Regions from separate parts of the Homo sapiens genome. Here region 2 is linked to region 1. The links come from fine-mapping of genetic effects on gene expression. A gene starts in region 1. The other region holds a variant in brackets. All regions are shown on one strand. Distances are between the middles of the regions.

Evidence for each region. PIP is the estimated chance that this variant, and not a neighbour inherited with it, causes the effect.
Region 2: its variant is fine-mapped to the expression of CACNG6 in whole blood (TOPMed, PIP above 0.99).

What each region holds. Positions count from the first base shown.
Region 1 is chr19:53,990,407-53,993,304 of GRCh38, forward strand. CACNG6 (calcium voltage-gated channel auxiliary subunit gamma 6) reads left to right here and starts at 1,231. Exons shown (of 4, transcript NM_145814.2): 1 at 1,231-2,802. The coding sequence starts at 2,472.
Region 2 is chr19:54,019,339-54,022,236 of GRCh38, forward strand. No RefSeq gene overlaps it. Among named protein-coding and RNA genes, the nearest start is that of CACNG6, 29 kb to the left of the region's middle. RefSeq lists an enhancer at 817-1,111. The variant C/G (reference allele first, on the strand shown) is at 1,358.

The DNA.
Region 1 (2,898 bases):
AGACCCAGGAGTCCAGGCCCAGCCCCTCCTCCCTCAGATCCAGGAGTCCAGGCCCCCTGCCCCCTCCTCCCTCAGACCCAGGAGTCCAGGCCCAGGCCTTCCTCCCTCAGACCCAGGAGCCCAGGCCCCCAGCCCCTCCTCCCTCAGACCCAGGAGCCCAGGCCCCCAGCCCCTCCTCCCTCAGACCCAGGAGCCCAGGCCCCCAGCCCCTCCTCCCTCAGACCCAGGAGTCCAGGCCCCCAGCCCCTCCTCCTTCAGACCCAGGAGTTCAGGCCCCAGTCCCTCCTCCCTCAGACCCAGAAGTCCAGGCCCCCAGCCCCTCCTCCCTCAGACTCAGGAGCCCAGGCCCCCAGCCCCTCCTCCCTCAGACCCAGGAGTCCAGGCCCCAGCCCCTCCTCCCTCAGACCCAGGAGTCCAGACCCCCAGCCCCTCCTCCCTCAGACCCAGGAGCCCAGGCCCCCAACCCCTCCTCCCTCAGACCCAGGAGTCCAGGCCCCCAGCCCCTCCTCCCTCAGACCCAGGAGTCCAGGCCCCCAGCCCCTCCTCCTTCAGACCCAGGAGTTCAGGCCCCAGTCCCTCCTCCCTCAGACCCAGAAGTCCAGGCCCCAGTCCCTCCTCCCTCAGACTCAGGAGCCCAGGCCCAGCCCCTCCTCCCTCAGACCCAGGAGTCCAGACCCCAGCCCCTCCTCCCTCAGACCCAGGAGTTCAGGCCCCCAGCCCCTCCTCCCTCAGACTCAGGAGCCCAGGACCTAGGAGACCAGGTTCCTCTCCTCTCAGATCCAAGATTCTGGGTACCCAGGCCTTCTTCCTCTACCACTCAGAAGTGGGGTACCGAGGCTTCTTCTCCCTTAGGGACCCAAGACTCCTGGCCTCAGGCCCTCCTCCCTGAGACCCGGGGCCCTGCCTCCCGCCCCTCCTCCCTGGTAACCCCAGTCAGACTTGCTGCCCCGCCCGTCTCCTGCTGCCCGGGAGACTGCGGAGCTGGGACTCTCGGCGCCGCTCTTGCCCCTTAGTGAAATGAAAGTCCCATCAGGCTCGGCCCCTTCCTCCCCGGGCGGCCTCCCTCCCCCCTTCCTCGTCCCCTTAAAACACCCGGGATCCCTATGGCAACAGGCGCCGGGCGACAGGTGCGGGTGTTATTTACGGGTCAAGCCCGAAATAGCCCCGAGGGTGGAGGGTGGAGGGTGGGGGGTGGGCGGGTGGGGACGAGGCCGGGCGCGGGCGGAGGCCAGGCCGGTGGCGGTGGCGGGCACAGCCGGACGCTTCGGAGGCAGCGCGGAGCTGGGGTCGGCGCGGGGCCGAGGCAGGAGAGCGAGAGGGGCCCCTGCTCGGGAGTCGGGGGTGGGAGCCCCGAGGGGGGGCCCTGGCCTGGGGCTGAGCCTGGCGCGAACCCGACCGGGAAGGCCCTGGGAGCCCGGGGGAGGGAGACGGACTGATCCCGAAGGGGCGCAGCGTCTCTTGCGGGTCGCGGTTGGCCTTTGAACCCTGGGGGGACTCAGTCCTGGTTTTCCGAGCCGCAGTGCGGACCACAGCCCCATAGTGTGAGCCCCAGGAGGGCCCCCGGTCCCATCTGCCCCAGCCCTCGGGGAGGCCCCGTAGCCTCCCGCCTCTGGACTCCACTCTGTCTTCCGGCCACCGGCCCCTTTTCCAGGCTCAGTAGAGACCTCGGATCTTTTCTGAATGGCAGGGGAGACCCCTATCCCCTTTTCCTGAATTCCAGCGAGGCCCAGTCCTCTTCTGAGCCCCAGCCAGGGCTCTGTTCTTCTCCTTCTGTGGATGCCGGGGTCCTACTGCCTCTCTTGAGACCCGGATTGAATTCCGACCTCCCCTTGGGAGCTTCCCGGGACCCCAGGTCTTCCTTTTCCGAATCCCAGAGGGTCCCCAAGTCCTCTGTTCTCAAACTCTGAGCCCAAGGGAACCCCGGCCACATCTCCTCCAAACACACACAGGACCTCAGGTCCCTTCCTGGGTACCCCAAACTCTTAGCCCTAGTGGGGTGCTCAGATCTCTCAGGAAAACCAGTTTCCCTTTTGTTAACCCCCCAGCGGGGACCCCAAAGCAGCCCCTTGGAGCTGCAGGGAGCTTCAGCGGGCACCAGTTCTCATTCCTCTGGAGCTCTTGGGGGGACTCCCTCCTGGGAAGCCGAATTCTATCTCTAAACCTCAGGGTGGGGGCCTTGTTTTTCCTCTGGGCCCCGTCTTCTTTGCCAAGTTCTTGAGGGCAACCTAGACCCTCCTCTGAACCCCAGAGGCTTCCCCAGCCCTGGGGATCATTTTTCTCTTCTGAACCCCAGAAGCAATCTCGACTTTCGCATTTGAGATTCCAGACAGGACTCGGCTCTCCCTCTTTCATACCCAGGGGAAACTGAGTCCCTCACCCCCTTCAAGACCCCAGGCCGCTCCTCGCTCCCGCCCCTCGAGGCCCTTCGCCGGCTCTGCCTCCTCCCCCTTCCCGACCCCACCGGCCATAAGATGATGTGGTCCAACTTCTTCCTGCAAGAGGAGAACCGGCGGCGGGGGGCCGCGGGCCGGCGGCGGGCGCACGGGCAGGGCAGGTCGGGGCTGACGCCCGAGCGCGAGGGGAAGGTGAAGCTGGCGCTGCTGCTGGCCGCCGTGGGCGCCACGCTGGCGGTGCTGTCCGTGGGCACCGAGTTCTGGGTGGAGCTCAACACCTACAAGGCCAACGGCAGCGCCGTGTGCGAAGCGGCCCACCTGGGGCTGTGGAAGGCGTGCACCAAGCGGCTGTGGCAGGCGGACGTGCCCGTGGACAGGGACACCTGCGGCCCCGCGGAGCTGCCCGGAGGTGAGCAGCCGCCGCCCCGAGCGCAGGGCTTGCGTCCCACGGACAGGGAGGGAGAGGGGCCCGTGTCCGAGGAGAAAACCCGCCCCAGGGACAAAA
Region 2 (2,898 bases), 29 kb after region 1:
GAGGCTTGTGGTTACAGATGAAGCAATGTCTTTGAGAAAAGCCCTTCTTTGCCACAATCACTTTTTTTTTTTCTTTTGAGACAGGGTCTCTCTCTGTCGCCCAGGTTGGAGTGCAGTGGCGTGATCTTGGCTCACTGCAACCCCTTTCCCCCTGGTTCAAGCGATTCTCCTGCCTCAGCCTCCTGAGTAGCTGTGATTACAGGCACCCACCACCACGCCCAGCTAATTTTTGTATTTTTAGTAAAGACGGGGTTTTGCCATGTTGGCCAGGCTGGTCTTGAACTCCTGACCTCAGGTGACCCGCCCGCCTCGGCCTCCCAAAGTGCTGGATTAGGCCTATAAAAGCCATTTTAACTGCGGTGAGAGGATATATGTGTCATGTAGTTTAGCCAGGCATCGTGGTGCACACCTGTAGTCCCAGCTACTCAGGAGGCTGAGGTGGGGGGATGACTTGAGCCTGGAGGCTGCAGTGAGCCATGATCGTGTCCCTGCATTCCAGCCTGGGCAACAGACCCTGCCTCAAAAAAAATACATAAAATAAAAATTAAACTGAAATAGGGTTGCCAGATTCAATGTAGGATGCCCAGTTGATTTCAAAACTCAGATAAACAACAAATAAAATGTTTAAGTCTAAGTACAGCCCCCAAACTGCATGAGATATACTTACATTCAAAATTTTTTTGTTTATCTAAAACTTTAAATTTAACTGGGCATCCTGTATTTTAATGTCCCAAGTCTAGCAATTCTATTTTAAAAGAATCCCTCTGTCTGCTACGTTGAGAGCAGATGGTCAAGGCGGGAAATGAAGGTAGAAGCAGGGAGATGGTTTAGGACGCTATTGTGATCAGGTGAGAAGGGCTGAGTCAGACCAGAGGGTGCCAGCAAGGCTGAAGACCCACCCTGTTCCCAGCCCCGCCCCTCCTGCTGCCCTTAACTGATGTGACACAATCCTTGTGAGGTCTGTGGACAGAGCGGGGGAACTGCACGGAATCTGACAATATCAACCTAAAAATTATTCACTGCCTACTCATTTCCCGTGCAAGGACAAACAAGAGTGCTGAAATGCGAGGCTTGCAAAGCCACAAGATAGGGAGGGCTTAATCATTTGCTTGCCTGCCTTATCAGTGTTACGAAGGCATTTTCCACCTTCCACTTCCTTTTCCGTTTGGACAAAAATTCAAACTTCTAGGCCAGGCGCGGTGGCTCACCCCTATTATCCCAGCACTTTGGGAGGCCGAGGCGGGTGGATCACTTGGGGTCAGCAGTTCGAGACCAGCCTGGCCAACATGGTGAAACCCCGTCTCTATTAAAAATACAAAAATTAGCTGGGCCTGGTGGTGCATGGCTGTAATCACAG[C/G]TATCTGGAGGCTGAGGCTGGAGAATCGCTTGAACCCAGGAGGCGGGGGTTGCAGTGAGCTGAGATTATGCTACCGCACTCTAGCCTGGGCAATAGAGTGAGACTCAGTCTCAAACAAAACAAAACAAAACAAACAAAAAAAACCACACGCACACACACACACTCAAACTTCTTTTATTTTTTGAGACAGATTTTCGCTCTTGTTGCCCAGCCTGGAATGCAATGGCACGAGCTTGGCTCACTGCACCCCCCCTCTCAGGTTCAAGCGATTCTGCTGCCTCAGCCTCCCAAGTAACTGGGATTACAGGCATGCGCCACCACGCCCGGCTAACTTTGTATTTTTAGTAGAGATGAGGTTTCTCTATGTTGGTCAGGCTGGTCTCCTGCCTCGGCCTCCCAAAGTGCTGGGATGACAGGCATGAGCCACTGGGCCCAGCTACATTCAAACTTCTTTTTTTTTTTTTGAGACGGAGTCTCGCTCTGTCGCCCAAGCTGGAGTGCAGTGGTGCGATCTCAGCTCACTGCAAGCTCCGCCTCCCGGGTTCACGCCATTCTCCTGCCTCAGCCTCCCAAGTAGCTGGGACTACAGGCGTCCACCACCACACCTGGCTAATTTTTTGTATTTTTGGTAGAGACGGGGTTTCACCGTGTTAGCCAGGATGGTCTTGATTTCCTGACCTCGTGATCTGCCCCGCCTTGGCCTCCCAAAGTGCTGGGGTAACAGGCGTGAGCCACTGCACCCGGCCCCACATTCAAACTTCTTATCACAACTTGCAAAGTTCTGCATGATCCGGGCTTAGCACCTCCCTTCTCCTGCTGTGCTCTAGCCGGCTCACTTTGCCTCAGCCACGCTGGCCTGTGTCCATTCTTGGAACTAGTACTGGCCAGGCTTGCTCCTGCCCCAGGGCCTTTGCCTGCGCTGTGCCTTCTGCCTGAAGTGTCATTCTCTTTGCATTTCTCATGGCTGGATACTTACACTGTTTTTAATTCTCAGCTTCAACATATTTTCATCCAAGTCTTCCCTTACCCACTTTGCAAAGGAAAGACCCACCTCCCATACACTCATTGTGTTATAGTGCATCCCTCTTGATTTCTAGCATGTCTCTTGTTACAATCTACAGTTTGTTGTTTTTTTCTTTCAGATGGAGTCTTGCTCTGTCGCCCAGGCTGGAGTGCAGTGGTGTGACCTCAACTCACTGCAACCTCTGCCTCCCGGGTTCAAGTGATTCTCGTGCCTCAGCCTCCCAAGTAGCTGGGACTACACGCGTCCACCACCACGCCCAGCTAATTTTTGTATTTTTAGTGGAGATGGGGTTTCACCATGTTGGTCAGGCTGGTCTGGAAGTCCTGACCTCATGATCCGCCAGCCTCGGTCTCCCAAAGTGCTGGGATTGCAGGCATGAGCCGCCGCACCCAGCCAACAGTAACAGTCTTTTCAAAATGCCTGGTCCATAGTACGTGCTCGACAAATATTTGTGAAATCACTGGATACATAAGACAGTTCCAGGGAAGGGGAGTAGCTTGCTCAGAACAGGGAAGCT